Linked DNA regions of Homo sapiens. The protein of the gene in region 2 purifies or fractionates together with the protein of the main gene of each other region. This does not show direct contact. Each region holds a gene or a part of one and is shown on either strand. Other genes may lie near its edges.

Region 1 (4,733 bases), on a different chromosome or scaffold from region 2:
GGAGCCAAGTCCTCCATGTGACTAGGTCATCTGACCAGGTCCTTTTGAGGGCTACTAGTTTTTTCTGCAGAAGGTGGGTTTTCACTGGCTCTCCCTCATCTGCAGTAATTTCCAGATTCACCCTCATCCTCATTCTAGAGCACATTAAGTACCTCACCTCTGCTAGGAAGTAGAGTTTAGAATTTGTTTTGTTGAAGACCACCTCGTGCCTTAGGAACTGGAAGCCATGCTGGGTAGAGGCCGTTCTGGATATAACCTGTCCCTTGCAGAGTGACCCACTCTGACTGCATCTTTCTGCTCTACATTTCAGACAGTTGCTAGACCTGAGGTCCTTCCTTGAACCCCAGCTTGCAGAGGGCAGATCCCAGTACCACATCCAGCTCTTGGCTAGCTTCATTACGGGAGTTATGTTCTGGGGGTGGGGGCTTGATACTGGCTGGACTCCTTCAAAAGCTCTGTCTGGCCTGCAGAATTGACATTGTCTAGGCCTTCTGTTGTTTTGCTCCACTGGGACCAGGTAGACCTGCTTGATGTAGATGTGAATGGAATTAACCTCAAGTTTGCCTCATTCCTTTGGAAACTTAATGCTGGACTCTTGGCCTCAGAAACCAGGCTCACAACTGGGCCATTTCTCCTTAACAATGGCTATGTCTGTTCCTGGCTTCTTCCCCTTCCTCACCGGCTCATGCTGTTGTGAGCCTCAGTAAGCAAGGAATTGAGCCCCTGGAATTATGACAGAAATTATGCTATAAGCACCACACATCTTTAACAGTGTTGCTTTTTTAACCAGAGAGGGGCGACCTTCACCTTTCGGGACATTTCTGGTTGGGAAAATCAGAGAGCAGGGTGATAGCAATAATAATGGTAACTGACAATTGTTTCTCTCGCGTTTAGCGATTTAGACAATGCTTTCTCCCCAGTTTTCAGGAGATAGAAGAAAAAGGAATCACTGATAGCTAGGCTGGATACATGATAAGTATTCAAAACAGCATTAAAAGTCTGGATTTTCTGGGATGAGAAGCTGAGCAGGCTAGTTGAAAAGTTGGAGTTAGCTGGCGTTATATTCTGTGAGGCCCAGGGAGCAGTGTAGTTGTGAACTCTGTGATAAGAGAAGCACTTTTTCTATATTTGGGGAGGGAGAGGCTCTTTGGCTGAATATCATAATTTGTCTTACTAAATGAGGCAAAAAGCCTCATTTCATTTATTGAATAAGTGAAATTCAAACTACCTCCCTGCCATCCCCACGGATGTGGCTCATTTTTGATGCCCAGATGCCTAAGAGACTCAAAATCCAAAATTACTTTTTGTTGAAATAGCTCAAGATTTGGGGAAATAATTGTCCATGGTTGTATATCTGACTCATCAGGATACATTAGTTATCAATGTTCCTGGTCAATCAACTTCAGTGATTTGAACATTTCCCAAGTGCCAGGAGCTGAGGAATATGAAGATGGGTTAGAGATTTTCCCCTCTCTCAACTAGCTTATAGTCCAGGGGGTGATGAGGCTGTAAACCAGGAGAGGCAAAGTACTGCTGATCCCTGGTGGCCTGTTTTCATATAGCCTGTGAGCTAATAATGGTTTTTACTTTATTAAAGTGTAGGGAAAAAATGCAACAGAAATGTGCCCATGAGGCCTGGAGAGCCTGAAATATTCACCATCTGACTCTTCACAGAAGTTTGCGGACCTCTGCTCCAAATGAGGATCTGCACAAGTCAGGCTGGGGCAAGTCCCACGACAGAGACGTGTACTTGGTGCTCTGGGATGAAATAGCAGGGGGGACTGGGGAGGGCCGTAGATGAGGCGGCAGTGTGTTGGCCCAAGAAAGAAAAGAGTTGTCCCAGTGAAGAAAATAAGGACTTTTTGGGAAAATCATGAGAAAAAGAATCCCAAGTGAGTGGCATTTGGGAATCATGGTTGAAATGAAGATTAAAAGATAGTTTGGGGCCATCTTATAAAGGACAGTAATTATCATGCTAAAAGATGTATACTTTATAATACAGAAACATGGTGATGTTGCAGATTGCTGAGAATAAGAGAGAAGGAGCCGCATGTGTGATCTAGAAAAGCGGCTCTGTTGATGTTGTGGGGGATGAATTAGGCCTGGTGGGAGGTGGTAAAGAGAGACAGGAGACAGGCATAGTGAATAGCTATGGATATAGTTTTAAAAATTGTAACTTAATTCAAACTAAAATAAATGAAATTCAAACTACATAAAACAGTTAAACAAAATGAGCTAATTTTTATTTTCATATCTGAAAAATACTCTGCAGTCAAATCAGGTAGAGTTAGAATAGAAAATATGATTTTATGATATAAAATACATTAATAATATTTATCATGAATTGCTAGGAGGACAGTCATAATTATCTCAGTACTGGGAAGACATTTGATGATGAAGTTTAGTATTCATTCCTGATAAACACTCTTAGTAAAATAGGACTCAAAGACTAGTTCCTGAACCCGATGGAAGGGTATTATATTAAGCCAACAACTGGTGTCATACTTAGTGTTGAGTCACTAGGAGCATCCCCAGTTAAATAAAATACCAAACAAAGATGCCTGCTCTTGCTATTATTTAATGTAGTTTTGGGAGGGTTCTGACAATGTAGTTGTACAACATGAAAGAAATATATCTTTGTATTGGAAAGGAGGAGACAAAATTAGTATTTATAGAAATTAGGAGATTATGTAGCTGATATAATGGAGAATCAACTAAAATTATTACAGTTAATGAGAGAATTCAGTAAGTTTACGAAGGATACAAAGCTAACATGTAAACAAGTTTTCTTGAGTATCTCAAATAACCAGTTGGAAAATATAATTTAAAAATATTAGGAGTATGATTTATACGAAATATTCAGGACCTACAGAAATAAAATGAAGCAATCCTAATAGGAGAAACATTTTTTTAGAAAATGGAGAGGTGTACCTTCGTTCTTCATTGACTTGAGAATGATAACTCCAGAACTCAAACCCCAGCTCTAAGGCCTTGGGCAAGCCTCTTGACTTCTCTGGGCCTGAATTTCCTTGTGTAAAGTAGGAACAGTAATGGTGAGAAGAAAAGTAATGCATGCAAAGTGCTCTGAAAAGTGGTCGGCATGTAGAAGTAATCAAACAGCAGGCAAATGTGGAGGGCAGGCGTGACCAGCATCTGGAAGGAGAGGTTTGTGGTGCTGTGAGAGCTGACAGTTGGAGGGTTTGCTTTTTTTTTTTTTTTTTTTTTTTTGAGACGGAGTCTCGCTCTGTCGCCCAGGCTAGAGTGCAGTGGTGCAATCTCGGCTCACTGCAAGCTCCGCTTCGCGGGATCACGCCATTCTCCTGTCTCACCCTCGTAAGTAGCTGGGACTACAGGCGCCCGCCACCATGTCTGGCTAATTTTTTTTGTATTTTTAGTAGAGACGGGGTTTCACCGTGTTAGCCAGGATGGTCTCGATCTCTCGACCTCGTGATCCGCCTGCCTCGGCCTCCCAAAGTGCTGGGATTACAGGCGTGAGCCACCGCGCCCGGCCGGGTTTGCTTTTTAATCCTCATGTTCTTATGTCCCCCTTGGGGAAGGTGTGTGTGTTCATAGCAGATAACTATGTGTAATGGTTGCCTGATGCCTCCACATGCCAGAAATACATACACTGTTTATTTCTGAACACTCCCAAAAAAGAATGAGAGTCAATAAAGAGCAAAGAAGACATGAAAATCAAAAACAGAGAGGTGAGGTTTTTGGGAACCAGCGTGGCTAGAGGCAGGAAGCCTAGTGGCTGGCATATGGGTGTGGGAATCCTGGAGTCAGATCCCGGGTTCACATCTGGGGCATCACCGCTTACCAGCTCTTTGATTTCACACAAATAACTTGAGTTGTTCATTTGCAAAATGAGGTTCAGAACAATACCTACATCACAGTGGGTGGGGACTAAATGAAATGCTTTCTGTAAAGTACTTACTGCAGGGCCTGACCCATAGGAAGTGCTAAATAAATAGTTATTCTCATAATCACTGTCACTGATTTTGTATGTAACACAACTTCATTGGAAACATTGTTTTCTGGGAAAAATGTCTTTATAACAAAAATCATTTTTCTGATTTTAGAATTTATTGTAGAAATTTGGGAAGGCTCAGAAAAGCATAAGGAAGGAAAATAAGTCACTGCAATTTTTAAAAAATATATTTTCCCATCCCTCTCTCACTTCTTGTTGCTGTAATCTTCTAACCCATTGCTAACAACTGTTACCATTTTGGTGCATATGTTTCCAATATTTTTATGCATAATTTTGAATCATCTATATATACATATTTGTACATATATATTTTCCATTTCTTCTATTTTGTGTGTGTGTGTGTGTGTGTGTGTGTGTGTGTGTGTGTGTGTGTGTTTGAGACGGAGTCTTGCTCTGTCGCCCAGGCTGGAGTGCAGTGGCGCCGTCTTGGCTCACTGCAAGCTCCGCCTCCCGGGTTCACGCCATTCTCCTGCCTCAGCCTCCCGAGTAGCTGGGACTAAAGGCGCCCACCACCATGCCCAGCTAATTTTTTTGTATTTTTAGTAGAGACGGGCTTTCACCGTGTTAGCCAGGATGGTCTCGATTTCCTGACCTCGTGATCCACCCGCCTCGGCCTCCCAAAGTGCTGGGATTACAGGCGTGAGCCACCGCGCCCAGCCCTATTTTTAAATATTCTATACCATGTGATTCTGTGTGCTGTGTATCACCCTTGGTGCCAGGAAAACTGATAGAAGATTTATCA
Region 2 (5,336 bases):
GTATGTATGTGTAGTGTGTTTGTGAGTATGTGTGGTTTATAATCTGACAAAGTCATGAAGCTCAGTTTGGCTGTAATTTAATTCCCCTTCCCTTATTTTTATTTATTTTTGTACTGTGCTGATTCAATAAAATGCACTGACCATCCATTACAGAGACCTCTTTTTGTGGGCAGGCTGGGGCCCCCTTTACTAAATGATTCATGCACTCAGAACATAATTGGATTTGTGTTATTGGGGAGGGGAGGACAGAGTTGGGGGCGAGGGCTTAACACACTAAGGTGATTAAGAAGGAAGCACAGGTTAAGTCAGCTTTGGTTTAGCGTCGGCCGAGGTGAGGGCAGCTGTTTCCCAAAGGCTCCCGTGGCAGAGCTGGGTGACTGGAACCTCCGGCCAAGGAGGGTCAGGCCCAAGCATGGCCTGGTGAGGTCTGGCCGGGTGGGTCCTGCAGGGGCTCTGGACCCTAGACTCCCTGTGTCGAGGTGTGACTCTGAAGCTGCTGCTCCCACGTATTCTTGGGCTTGGCTCTGCTCTGTGCTCCCTTCCCCCGGGGTCTCCCAGGCCAGCAGGGGTGGGCTGGCGTCCACATGGGCCAACCCTGCAGGTTTAGCTCCATGCGGGTTTCCAGGAGGGAGAAATCCAGCCCTGTGGCTCCCAGGGAAGCAGCCACTCCAGCCCATAATTGCGGCAAGGGTGGGGTTCCTACCAGCTCTATCTGTACCTGTCCTGACTGCCAGCCTGAGGCCTGCACGTGCCACCAGCGTCAGCCTCAGGAAGAGGGTTATGGGGATGCTGGATGTGGCCCTCCCCAGGCCCTGCACCCTGCGGTCTGAAGCTGCTCCTGAGTACTAGGAAAGTCTTTCTTGTCCTCAAGTTGTAGCTTGGGAGCTGTCAGCCTTGTGATCAAGGCCACTTGCTTTCCACAAAGCAACTGCCTTCGTCTGAGTTACAGAAGCCACCGCTGCGTGTTCTTTTCTGCCAATGACCAGTGACCGGAAGCACCCTGGCTGCAGGACCCTTGGGTGCTGGCCATGCCCTGTTGCTCCCTCAGGGCCTTGCTCCCTTCCCCAGGAGGAGCTGCTGCTTCCTCTCACTCTCCCTGCCGCCCCCACACTTCCTCCCAGCACCTTTCACTCCGCTGGCCTGGCCTGTCCCCAGTCTGCTGCTGTAGGTCTCTGAGCCTTTCCTTTCTACATACGTGCTTCTATTGCAGTAAACATATTCCCTGGCACTAAGCAGTGTGCTTCCAGCTGCCAGCGCACAGGCCTCAAGATGGCAGGAGAAAGTGCTGGGACTCAACCCCACGGCCTCCTTCCCTCCTCACACCTCCGGTCCACAGCTTGCTTCTTGCTCACTTTTTGTTCAAAAGCCTCAGGCAAATCATCCTCCATTTTACATGATTTGTGCTTAATTCTCCCTTCTATCCTCCCAGATAATGGTTGACTTTATTTAAGCAAAAATTTCACCAAGTTTTCAGTGACAGATAAGCAGAACACCTTTAAAAATAAGATTTAATGCTTTATTGCTCTTGATGGCAAATCAAAATATGCTTTAGAAATAAAGTTAATTTACTGGAAAATAGGAGTTTTTGCACCAAACCATAAAATTGCATTTCATTACATCAAGAGAACCCCCTCATTGTCTACAATCATGCCCGCTTCCTTTCCCCTCAGCGCCCGGGACACGTGACCGAGATCATACCCTAAATTCCTGATCCTTTTGCAGTTGCCACATACTGTGGCTTTTAGTACATCATAAAAAAGTGCTTGTCCTGTGGCCTCAGCTGGGAGGCCCTGGCGCTGGGGCTAAGGGGCCCAAGGCACCATCCAAAGGCTGGGAGGAAAGAACCCAAACCCAGGCCCTCCTCCTGCCCTCCAGCCTTTGACAGGCAACTCATTTGGCATGATCTGTTTTGGTGTGTTTAAAACATACATTTGCATGTGTCTAGTGTAAAGCAACAAGTTTGAGGAAATAAGTGGAAGGAGAGAGGAAGTTCCAGTTAGATGGTTCCACTAGTGTCTACTGGTAATTGGCAAAACTATGAGTGTTGCTAATCTGGGCTGAGGGCACCTCTGCCTGTGCAGGCAGCTGACCAGGCTTGGAGAATGAGAAAGGGTTCCCAAGGACAGGATGCCAGCGGGATTCTTTGTTGCAAACTGCACACAGTGCAATTTTTGGGAAGCAGGGATGGGGAGTGGGCATGAGACCGGGTTGTTGGGACCACTCTGGGGTCAGGCCCTGGGTGAGGCACAGGAGGCTGCACACAGGCACTTGGTGGGTTCTGCCGGGTCAGGGTGGGAAGGCAGGAGAAGTGTCTGTGGCAGGACGGGAAGAAGCTTCAGTACATCCCTCTCTTGCACCTCTGCCCACTCCACCTGAGGCGTTGGCTCCCTCCCCCTCATCCTCTCACCACATGCCTGAGGCGTAGGCTCCCCTCATCCTCTCACCGCATGGGGCATTTGCTCCCAGCCTCTACTTCCCTCAAGGCCTTCTCAGCAGCTGGGGCTCAGTGGGGAAGGTGGTCTCAGAAGGCCCCTGAAGCATACGTGCTTTTGCTGGGCAGAAACTGGCAAGCTGGCAGTGCTCCCTGGCACCAGTTTCACGGGCGCAGGCCCCAAGGGGCCGTGTAGAGGGCGGGGTGGGCATCCTGGCCTGGCCTGCAGTGCCAGGACCCCACGCTGTGCTGCTGCCCCGCTTCCTGCTTCCCGTCATCCCGTGTCTTGACCCCGCCCTTGCTGTTTCTCTGAGTAGGAAACGCAGCGGGAGGTGGTCCAGAGGGAAAGCGGCCGACCCTGAGGGCTGCCCTCACCCTGGCAGCTCCCCGTTCTCATTAGGGTTCCTGACCCAAGTGTGGTGACAGCAGGTATCTGATTAGCAACCCTGCAAACGGTGAAAGTATCTATAAGAGGACCACAGCCACAGGCTGCGAGTTAAGTAAGATGATCCTTGGAGCATGCCACACTGTCCTCTCCAGAGCGGTGGTCAGAGGCCCTGGTGGGGGCCTTGGTGGCAAAGGGAGTCTCCCAGGGGAGAACCTGGGAAGGATGGACTCACTCTGCTGGATGGGCTGTTCCGCTCCTGCCACTGGCTCCTGGCTGAGGGGCTGGCCCTGTGGGTGACTCTGCTCACCCAGTGGCTTTGGCTGGCGGCTGGGAGTTGGGTTGGGGTGGGTCCGCCGAACTCTGAGCAGAGCCTCCCTGAGCTGGGTCCCCAGGGCTGGCTCACCTTGGGCAAGAGAGGTGGCTATGGGGCTCCCGCAGAGTGGGGTCCTGCATCCCCACCCCTTCCCTCTGCAGGGTCAGCAGCAGGGAGGACACCTGTCCAGGTGCTCTGACTTGACCTGGCCACGGGGCATCCGCACCAACTAAAGGCACCATCCAGTTGCCTCTGGGGTGAGATTGGTCTGGACGTCAGCCCAGGGGTCTGGGCGGGGCACCAGGGTCTTTGGCTTATTGAACAGGGACCGTGGACAGTAAGGACAGAGGAAGATGATACCAAAGGCAGAAAACCAGGAAGGAAATCTTACAGGGGCGGGGCTCCTCTGGGAGGGGCCCTCGCAGCAGGTTTCTAGCGGGCATGGGTTGGGAGGCAGCAGCTGGACTGGGACCCAGGACTCGGAGTGTGGCCGGGCTCCGGGCCAGGCCTCCGCGGGGCGTCAGTTCCCGGGCACGCTGAGGATGAAGCCCGAGCGATTCTTGGTGAAGTCGGGCTGGGGCTGGTTGAGCCGCGTCTCCACGGAGACGGTGCACTTCTTCCCGTGCAGGCTGCACTGTACTGGGTTGGTGACGTTCACTTGAAGGTGGCGCTTCTCACTGCAGGAACCAAAAACACCAGACGGGCAGTTAGCAGGCAGCATGAGAACAGGGCACCTGCCCGGCAGCTCCCGGCCACCATTGGCTCCGGCGCAGCCTGCTTCCTCCACAAGTGCCAGGAGGATGCCTGAAGGGCCCCAGAGAGGCCGAGGCAAGGCGAGTGTGGCACTAGCTGGGCCTCCAACCACAGCCTCGGCACCATGGCAGGGCCCTTGGCTCCCATGCCAGCGCATGGGACTGGACAGTGGAGGGCCATGTGGTTGAACAGACGCCACCAGGTCTCTGGCTGGGGCTGAGGACCAAGCCCCTGGGTCCTTCGGTGTACCAGGGCTGGGGTTCTGACTCTGACACTAATCCATCCTGCGGGAGACCCGTGCCACATGCCCCAGTGAGAGAGAGAGAGAGAGATGTCTCCTGCTCCTGGCTGGTCCCTGCCTGTCACACCCCGGCTGGTGGAAGTGGGCCTGACTTGGGTTTCCCCAAGCGAGAGGCTGCTCTCATCTGGAGCTGGGCCGCTTGGCTGGTTGCCACCCTGGAGGCTGCAGAACAGTGCAGCCGGTGCCCCACCGGGGGCTGCAGGGAACCCTGTGCAGCAGGAAGCCCCGCTGGCCTGGGAGCACATGAAGGCGGCTTCAGCCGGGCGTCCGGCCGGGCTCCAGGTCGGGTGCAGAGGCGGAAGCTGTGCTCTTCCTGCTGGACAGAGCCCGAGCCCGAGCCCTTCCTCCAGCTCCTCACACGACGCTGAACATGCTAAGAAGCTGCTGCTGGTTTTAAAAGCAGAGACACTTGTCGCGATAGGCTGGCACCCCAATGTTTGCTCACACAGGCAGCACAATCCCACGCTGTACCTCAGCTTGTGCCTTGTCAGCTCTGAGCTGGGAGGGGAGAGGAGAAAGGAGGAAGCCTCCTGACCTCGGAGCCTCCAGTCAGGACTGGCTGGCTCTGCTCCGTATGCCGAAAGCCCTGGGAATTTTTCACTGCTCTCGGGATGGCGTCTGGGGCGTGGGCAGGTTGGTCCCGCTTTGAACGCTCTGCTGGACTTACGGAGCTGCTCTTAGTGCTGGGCAGTGAACGCCAAGCTGTCGTGTCCACACGGCCAGGGGAACGCCAGGGCCAAGGCCAGCATGCGCTGAGCTTCTGCCCAGCCTGGAGTCGCCTTCACCAGGCCATGAGCACGTGAGGCACTTTCTAAGCACTGGTTGCCCGGGAGGCGCAACTGCTCAGACGCCGAGGCAGCTCAAAGGGCTCCGACGTGCGGTGGCTCCACGGGGTCAGCGTGCCCAGAGTAATGGGTGTCACTAGAGCACCTGGCCCAGCACACGCTTTCTGAGGACACCTGGTGGGCGCGCCCCACAGCAGGCCCCAAAGTTTCAGAGGTAAGTGCGGGGTGCTCAGGGGCTCTCCTCATGGCTGTCTCCCCCCTGCTTTCTCACGGACACAGGAAGAGACCCCGGTTGTCACTTGTGGGCATTACGTATCTAATACTTAATGTCTTGTCAGCTGCAGCTAAAACCTGAGCTTAGACAG
Region 3 (4,733 bases), about 31 Mb from region 2:
GTTCTCCTGCCTCAGCCTCCCGTGTAGATGGGATTACAGGCATGTGCCACCACGCCCAGCTAATTTTGTAGTTTTAGTAGAGACGGGGTTTCTCCATGTTGGTCAGGCTGTTCTCGAACCCCTAACCTCAGGTGATCCACCTGCCTTAGCCTCCCAAAGTGCTGGGATTACAGGCGTGAGCCCCTGGGCCCTGCCAATTCTATCTTTTTTTTCATACAACTTTGTATTTGTGTGTTGTTTATCTTTTTATCCCTAGAGTTTGAACACCTTGAAATATCTTTTAAAACTTTCTAATGTGTAATACAAGATAAGTATTCAGTAAATTGTTGTTAATGATTTATAAAAGTTCAGTAATAAAATTAAGTATTAGGGTAGATTAAATGGCCTCCAGTCTTTTTCCATTGACCTTTTCTCATTGATGATAATAATAGCCAGCATTTTTTTAGCATTACTGTGTTAGGTACCATAAGAAATAATTCGTAGGTTTTCTGTTGCTTTTAACTCCCACAGCAGCTTTGTGAAATGATGCTTTATCTCCATTTTACAGATGAGGAAATTGAGGTTTGGAGAGAATAAATGATTTGCTCAGGGCCTCCTTACCAAATTTTTCTGACTCTGAAGTTCATATTCCTAACTGCTTCAGTCTAAGAAAGTTGTTATTTGTTGTTTTTTTTTTTGAGATGGAGTCTCGCCCTGTCGCCATGCTGGAGTTCAGTAGCGCTATCTCAGCTCACACCAACCTCCGCCTCCTGTGTTCAGGCAATTCTCCTGCCTCAGCCTCCCAAGTAGCTGGGATTACAGGCGCACACCACCACGCGCAGTTAATTTTTTTGTATTTTTAGTAGAGACGGGGTTTCACCATGTTGGCCAGGCTGGTTTCGAACTCCTGACCTCAAGTGATCCACGCATCTTGGCCTCCCAAAGTGCTAGAATTACAGGCGTGAGCCTCTGCGCCCAGCCTGTTATTTGTTTTTAAAAGTTTTGTTTGTTTTTAAAGAATGCCACATTGGAGGAGTGCTGATAATTCAGTTAGTCTCAGTCCATACCACAGAGATAACTGGCTTGTGGCAGCCAAGTGTGCATAGTGATGTTGCTTTTTAGAAGGAAAAAAAACAAAAACAAAACCTCAATCCAGGAAGAAATGCCTAAAAGAGCCACTTGATTTACTTCCTGTCTTTATACATGTCCTCTGAAGTATCAGTTGAAGAACCTGTCTACCTCTAGGAATGTATTTTACTTTGACACAAAATTAGATTCTATAACCCTGATTCACTTGTGTCAGTTGTCCCAGATTTCAGATGACAGTGCCAAACTTTTCCACTAGTGTGTTCTCAGCTCTGGAACTACTAAACAAGTTTGTTCATTAAGTAATGCCAGGAATTGGTTAGCTTCCTGGAAACAGAATTTGTCAACCTGATAAACCAGCTCTTATAATAGCGTCATCTTATACAGAATTAGAAATGATTTCTTCAGTCATACTTGTGGATCTGACTTGAAAAGTGGTGTGTGTATGTGTGTGCCTGTATGTGTATTCACATCCATCTTTGTTCAATATCTGAGTTGAAAGAACTGAAAATTCTCAATACTTAGGGTGGTTAATGTTGTTACTGATAACTCCTTGCATTCCGCTTTTAGGAGTATTGTTGGATGCTCCTCAGAAAACACTTAAACCTAGTCATAATCCTCCTTGTATTGATCCCAATTTATTATTACAGTTGGCCCAATTTTATATATATTTAATAATATCTAAGCCATTTAATATATAAACCTATACATATTATATATAAGCCAATCTTCCTAGCTTAGATGTTATGCTCTAGTTTTTAAAGTTTGGTTGTGAGGATAAAAATCAAAACAAAAAACCAAGTTCCCTTTTTGTTTTTGGGACAGGGTCTCACTGTCGCCCAGGCTGAAGTACAGTGGCATGATCATGGCTCACTGCAGCCTCAACCTCCTGGGCTCAAGTGATCCTTCCACCTAAGCCTCTCAAGTAGCTGAGCCTACAGCGTGCACCACCATGCCCAGCTAATTTTTTGTATTTTTTGTAGAATGTAGTTTTGCCATGTTGCCCAGTCTGGTCTCGAACTCCTGGGCTCAAGCAATCCACCTGCCTCAGCCTCCCAAAGTGCTGGGATTACAGGCATGAGCCACCCTGTCCAGCCAGGTTCCCTTCTTTAAAGAAGCTATAGGGAAATTGTAGAAGGTATAAAATAATTGATGGGATATATATGTGTTAATTTGACAGATGTCTTTTTGTAGATACCCACTTTCTCCTCATTCATTATCCCCTTTACTGCATGCTTTCTATATTACAGCTATGTCACTCTCATACATACTTTTGTATATGTTTTGAAGTGGAATCATATGGGAAGTTATGCTCCTGGTGGTTTTCCTGCAAGTTTTAAATCTAATTTTACTTTCCTGAACAAGCAAAAACCTCTTTATAGGCAACTTTGTCCTTTTCTGTACCTCGTCAGAGGGCATATAGGGCACCAGAGCAGATTTCGTCTAGGAAGAGGGGAGAGGCAAATAAGGTGAGGGGCCAGGCACGGTGGCTTATGTCTGTAATCCCAGCATTTTGGGAGGCTAAGGAGGGAGGATCGCTTGAGCTCAGGTGTTTGAAATCAGCCTGGGCAACATGGTGAAACCCTCGCTCAATAAAAAATACAAAAATTAGCAGGGCATGGTGGTGTGCACCTGTAGTCCCAGCTACTCTGGAGGCTGAGGTGGAGGATTGTTTGAGCCTGGGGGTGGAGGAGGCTGCAGTGAGCTGTGATTGCACCACTGCACTCTAGCCTGGGCAACAGAGTGAAACCCTGTTTCAGTCAGTCAGTCAATCAGTTAATCAGTAGTGGGAGAAGAGACTTGAGCAGTTTTACTTCCTACATTTCATGCTGTTCGTTTCTTTCCACAGGGTATTAGAATATTTCCAAGGGACAGTGATAAAGGGTAGAAGATAGGCACTCTCTTTGGGTGGAATCTTTTGTATTTGCTTCTTTTAAGGTGTGCCCCAAGTCCCCAAATGGCTCAGTTGTCACCAAAGCAAGTGTAACAACTCATCCCTCATGTTCCCTTCACGATCAACAGATTTATTCATTTTCAATCTCCAAATGCTATTTGAATGGGCAAAGATCTCTTAAAGGACCTGGGAAAAATTTGTACAACATGGAATTGGACTGGTTTGTGTTCTGGGTTTTGGCCAGTTGTTTTCAATGTATGAGAACTCTAGTACTCCATGCTATTTCAAGAAAAGGGGATTAAAAGTAATGCCAGTAAGGTGGAGACAATGCATTGCTTGGTCAGCTTAGGGAGGAAAAACAATAGAACTACCCTTTGACTTCCCCATGGGAAGTAGTAGGCCTATAAACTTGTAAAGAGTTGTGGGGGTTGCTGGTGGTGGCGGCATTCAAATGCTAGGCTTGTAAAACAACTTCTGTTCAAAGCAGTTACCTGAGGCCCTTATTTGGTACCTTTTAAAGTGTGCTCTCCTCCTTATGATGCTTTAAGAATAAGTCTGGGACTGACACTGTGCCATAATCCTCTCTCTATGGATTCATCTTTTCATTCAGTACCATATTACATTGTACTGTGTTCTTCACTTCAATTTTTCATCTATTTTTCCTGGTTAAGTTTCTCTGGCACTGGACCAACTGCCCTGTTTGAGCGTGTCCCTTCCCTGCAATGAATTGGTAAATATTGCTGCAGGAAATCTGATTGGAGGGCTATTAAGAAACCATTAAAGGCCAGGCATGGTGGCCCACACCTGTATGTAATCTTAGCACTTTGGGAGGCCGAGGCAGGAGGATCACTGGAGTCCAGGAGTTGGAGACCAGCCTGGGCAACATGGGGAGACCCCGTCTCTACAAAAAATAAAAAAATCATCCAGGCATGGTGGTGCATGCCTGTGTTCCCAGCTACTCAGGAGGCTGATGTGGGAAGGTCACTTGAGCCCCAGAGTTGGAGGCTGCAGTGAGCTATGATCACGCCACTGCACTCCAGCCTGAGTGACAGAGCAAGACCTTGTCTCGAAGAAAAAAAAGAATCCATTAAAATTCAAATTGCCATAGTCTGACCTTTTGGGCTGCATCTGATTATAGTTACAGGGTCTGTCATTTTACCTGGGCAGAACTCCCTGAGTATTAGTTATACAGTTTGTGAAAGAGCTTTGCTGGTCTGTATTTAAGTGTCTTAGTCCATGTGCTCTCTTTCATTGCAGACGAACAGGAGGCATTGAACTCAATCATGAACGATCTGGTGGCCCTCCAGATGAACCGACGTCACCGGATGCCTGGATATGAGACCATGAAGAACAAAGACACAGGTCACTCAAATAGGCAGGTGTGTGTGACCCTGGCAGAGCTAAGTGAGATTTGTTGGGGAGGGGTTTTCAAATGGGAAATATACGAAAAGCCAAGGAGACTACATTACCAGGGTTGAATGCTTTTGACCCCTTCCTTTCACAGTCTGTTAAATGGGAAGTAATACATACCAACCAGGTATGGTTAAATGGTAAGTGATATTGGGAGGCCGAGGCAGGCGGATCACCTGAAGTCAGTAGTTTGAGACCAGCCTGGCCAACATGGTGAAACCCTGTCCCTACTAAAAAACACAAAATTAGCCAGGTGTGGTGGTCCATGCCTGTAGTCCCAGCTACTCAGGAAGCTGAGACAGGAGAATCGCTTGAACCTGGAAGGCAAAGGCTGCAGTGAGCCGAGATAGCACCACTGCACTCC
Region 4 (4,733 bases), on a different chromosome or scaffold from region 2:
CCACAGAGCCAAGATACAAATATTAATAAATCACAATTTCTCTTTTATTTTTGTTGAGAAATGAGTATAAGTAGAAATCTAACATTTTCTTCCCACACCCCAGCAGATACTCTGGCACCCAAATTTGCAGCTCGCTGGAAATTCTACAGCCTCCTCAAGGGGGATTGCTAACTCCTGGAAAAAAAATCATAAAATATACAGTGAGCACTTCTCTCCCTTGTCTCCATGATCACAAGCCCCCATATTATATTATGCTGCAGAGAGGCCTGGTAACTGCTTTAAACTGCATAATTTTCAGAAAAAGTTACCTTTTTTACAGATTAAAAGATTAAGTTTCTCTAGGGGACAGGCCTCTGTGTATGCCAGAGAAAGTAATGTTCCACGTCAGCTTTTTGTGTTTCTTTTGGTTTCCTGTATTGCATTATTTAGGGTGGGATTTATCTTGAAGTGCCCTCCCCCAACCTCACAAAATTCATTGAGAAAACTCAAGATGTATCATAAACAGTCTAAAATATTTTGAACCACTCCCCCTGCCAGATTGATCACTGAACTATAAGCTGACGCATTTGCAGAAAAACTTCTCAAGAACAGTTTTGTACTTTCAGTAGAAGCAGTCTTTTTCATAGCATTTAGAAAAATGTGGTATGGTGCCTGGTGATTCATCGTGGATCTTCCCAAATTGCCTGATCTTCCAAAGTATGTTCATTCTCCTGGGAAGCCACATTAACTTTTATGTTCAGAAAACATTTATTTTAAGAAAACTCAGATGGATATTATTTGAGTACTATGAAAAATAAAATGTTATGTTTTAAATGTGTCTGTTCTATACAGTTTTAGAAACAAAAATGAGTGTCCCTTCCACAAAAACAAAACAAAAGGCTAATTTTATAAGCTGGAATGCAGATAAATTAATTATATGATTAAATGTATGATAAATTAATGCTTAGTCAATAAATACAATATGATCATAATTTGTAACTGATGCAGTGATTATAATGTATGATTTTATAGTAATAGAAAAATTAAAATACAAATTTTGAATGAATGCCTTGGTATTTACTAGAAAAAAACTGTCTGTAATTTTGTGTGTATTTGTGTGTACTCAAATTACCTGATTAAGACATAGAATGAGGAGGTGGATGTGGGTGTAAGTATATGACTCTGGCTATATACAGATACAAAGTAATTGAGATTTGTGTCAGCTGAAGAAAGACCCAAAACCATGTAGTTGCATGACCAATATAAACTAAAAGGAAGTATTGGTGCCATAAAGTTATCATAATTTTCTCTATAAAGTGAGGAAAGTAAGACACAAAAATGTTAAACCCTATCAAATTGGTGCTATTTTATAAAAATGAGCATATGTTTTAACCTTAGTTTATACTGTATTTCCTCATGGAATATTTAACTTTCTAAGTGTGAAACATAGTGAAATTTGGACTAATTTCATTTTCTTTCTTTTCACATATATATGAAGAAAACTGAATATCCTGATGTTGCTTGGCCATTGAGATTTCGCATCCTGCATGAAATTGCCCTTGGTGTAAATTACCTGCACAATATGACTCCTCCTTTACTTCATCATGACTTGAAGACTCAGAATATCTTATTGGACAATGAATTTCATGTTAAGGTAATTACTTTTTTAAAAAGTTTATGTTTCCTTGTCCTTATAGTTTTAAAAATACTTTTTAGTTATTTCTTCGACCTAGCCAATTTCATGTCTCTCCTTAGAGATAGAGACTAATGAATAGTAATTTCCATAGCCCCTAATTTCTATCTTCTATTCTCCTTCTTCCTACTGCAGTTAGGAAGTTATTCCTAGACAGAGATAGAATTATGGTACAAAATACAAAGCCATTATGTTTCTTAATTGAATTGTCAAGATCACCTTTTTTTTTTACTTTTTATTTTAAAATTATTATATATTTATAGGAAGTTGCAAAGGTAATAAAGAGGTTTCATGTATCCTTCACCTGGTTTCCCACATTGTTATATCACACATAATTATAGTATAATTTCAAGACCAGGAATTTGACATTAGTACAATGTGTGTTCATAGTAACCGCAACAATCAAGGTACAGCACTACTCATAACATCACCACAAAGATAACACTCATCCTACCTCACCCACTTCCTCCCTACCACAATCTGTACCCCTAACAACCACTAATCTGCTTTCCATCTCTTTAATTTTGTCATTTTGAAAATGCTATATAAGTGGAATCATATAGTATGTGATATTTTGAGATTGGCTTTGTTCACGTCACATAATGCTCTTGTGATCCGTCTAAGTTGTGCTTGTAACAATAGTTGTTTTTTATTGATAAGTAGTATTCCACAGTATAAATGTACCAAAGTTAACCATTCAGGAACATTTTGGTTCTTTCCATTTTGGGGTAATTATTTACAAAGCTGCTGTGAACAAAGCTGTACAGGTTTATGAGTGAACATAAGTCTTCATTACTCTGTGATAAATGCCCAAGAATGCAAATGCTGGGTCATATGGTAAGGGTGTGTTTAGTTTTTAAAGAAAGTATCCAACTATTTTCCAGAGTGGCTGTACCATTTTACATTCCACCAGCAATGTGTGAGAGATCCAGCTATTCCGCATCATTTTCTAAAGGGATTCTTTGGTTTTCTTACTGTTGAGTTTTGAGAATTCTGTATATGTTACAGTAGTAGTTCTTCATCAGATATGTAGTTTGCAAATATTTCCTCCCAGTTATAGTTTATCTTTTCATCCTTTTAACAGGGACTTTCACAAAGCAAAATGATAATACCAAATGCCCACCAGCATTTGGTATTATCACTGTTTTCTGTTTAGCTGTTCTAATAGATGTGTAGTGATATCTCATCTTGGTATTAATTTGCATTTTCCTAACTGCTAATGATATCGAACACCTTTTTATATGCTAATTTGCCACCCATACGTGGTTTTCAGTGAAATGTCTCTCATGTCTTAAGCTCATTTTCTAAAGGGATTCTTTGGTTTTCTTACTGTTGAGTTTTGAGAGTTCTGTATTTGTTACAGTAGTAGTTCTTCATCAGATATGTAGTTTGCAAATATTTCCTCCCAGTTATAGTTTGTCTTTTCATCCTTTTAACAGGGACTTTCACAAAGCAAAAATTTTAATTTTGATGAAGTCCATATTTTTTCTTCTATGGATCATGCTTTTGCTGTCATCTCTAAGCACTTTTCACCAAGTTCTACTTACTGAAGATTTCCTTTTTTGTTATCTTCTGTAAGTTTTATAGTTTTATGTTACATATGTAATCTGTGATCCACCTTGAATTCATTTTTTAATAAGATGCAGGACTTAAGTGCTGAAGACACTGGCTATTGTGATTTCACAGCTATACTATATCTAACTGAGTGTAAATAAAAAGTAGTTTTTGAGTAATTAATACTAAATGTAACTCACCATATTTTTATGTATCATTTTGCTATACTTCTTTTAATAACATGTAATCAGAAAATTATTATAAATATAAAAAATGTTCAAAGAAATCAGTAATAGAGAAGTTGAAACAACAGGGAAATTAAAACAAGAAATGTGAGAGAAAATAAGTGGGAAAAATTTTTATTGAAGACACTCCTCTCCTTAGAATAAAGTGGTAGGGGAAAGGAGAGAGAAGCAAGCTGCTGCCTCAGTATTGCTAAGAAAAAAAGAGACTAATCTATTCCATCAATTATAGAACCATCAAGTAGAAATACCTTAATGGTCAACTAGTTCTCTGATACTTCACTGCAACAATCCCTGTCTCCCAAAGCAGTTATCCTGTAACAGGGAGTCTTAACATCCTTAATTGAATAATTGTGACATTTTCTTAAATGATCAACCAAAATTCCTTCCTGGTTGCTTCCACACATTGATCCTAGTTCAACTTTTTGTGATAAACAGAATAAATCCAATTTAGTTACTTCAGCAAGACAGCCCTTTCAATATTTGAAGATAGCTATGAGCTGTCTCCCAAACCCTCACGTACAAGTGCATTTTATCCATCTCCCTGATAAATACCCTTTAGTTCCTTCAACTCGTTTTCTTATTACATGGATTTTAATCCTTGGTGCTATGTAGATGCATCATTTTGTTTAAATCTCACTTAAATGTTGATCGTCAGAACTGAACACAATACTATTTTTGGTGCGGTTTGATGAATGCAGACTTTAGTGAAAGTGTCATTTCCTTGGCCCTAAATACTTAATAGTTCCTTAATAATTCATCAGCTTTCCAGGGGTAGTCATATCACATAGTTCAAATTGGGCTTAGTGTCAACAAAAAACCCTTGGAGGTTCTTTTTGCCACGTATCGTTGCTTAAGCCACCTCTTCTTAAGCAACAAAGTACACAAAATAATGTACTTTGCAGAATACTTTCTAGATATGATCAAATTTTATCTTGTTAGATTGGAGCAATTGCTTCAGTCTCTTAAGACCTTTTTGAATGTTATTTCTATAATCCAAAGGTTTTAAGTTTCTCTCCAAGTTTTGTGTGATGCTGAAATTTAATTAGCTAATTTTTTGTATCTTTAAGTCATGATTAAATATGAACCAGTACAGAGCTTGAATCAGAGCTGTATCACATGGCCATAAGAACCTTCATCTGGGTCAATATCAGTCCTTTTGTTAATCCGCGCTTTTGGAGAACACTCATTCAGTTTGTCTGGAATACTCCTAAAAGTGCTATTATACAGCCCATATTTCTTCATTCTGTCCTTAAAAATTTTTC

What was found. The genes of interacting proteins can lie anywhere in the genome.
Region 1: the proteins of MYO1D (region 2) and FAXC purify together in Homo sapiens (co-immunoprecipitation; one large-scale study listed by IntAct). This does not show direct contact.
Region 3: the proteins of MYO1D (region 2) and MAP3K3 purify together in Homo sapiens (tandem affinity purification; one large-scale study listed by IntAct). This does not show direct contact.
Region 4: the proteins of MYO1D (region 2) and RIPK2 purify together in Homo sapiens (tandem affinity purification; one large-scale study listed by IntAct). This does not show direct contact.

What each region holds. Positions count from the first base shown.
Region 1 is NC_000006.12:99,317,894-99,322,626, reverse strand, and holds part of FAXC (failed axon connections homolog), read left to right. Parts: intron 1-4,733. UniProt on the Homo sapiens protein: May play a role in axonal development.
Region 2 is NC_000017.11:32,491,107-32,496,442, forward strand, and holds the end of MYO1D (unconventional myosin-Id), read right to left. Parts: intron 5,186-5,336; exon of another isoform or gene 4,342-5,185; intron 3,810-4,341; coding exon 3,653-3,809; 3' UTR 1,416-3,652; downstream 1-1,415. UniProt on the Homo sapiens protein: Unconventional myosin that functions as actin-based motor protein with ATPase activity. Plays a role in endosomal protein trafficking, and especially in the transfer of cargo proteins from early to recycling endosomes.
Region 3 is NC_000017.11:63,628,465-63,633,197, forward strand, and holds part of MAP3K3 (mitogen-activated protein kinase kinase kinase 3), read left to right. Parts: intron 1-4,216; coding exon 4,217-4,338; intron 4,339-4,733. UniProt on the Homo sapiens protein: Component of a protein kinase signal transduction cascade. Mediates activation of the NF-kappa-B, AP1 and DDIT3 transcriptional regulators.
Region 4 is NC_000008.11:89,763,864-89,768,596, forward strand, and holds part of RIPK2 (receptor-interacting serine/threonine-protein kinase 2), read left to right. Parts: intron 1-1,477; coding exon 1,478-1,633; intron 1,634-3,145; exon of another isoform or gene 3,146-3,246; intron 3,247-4,733.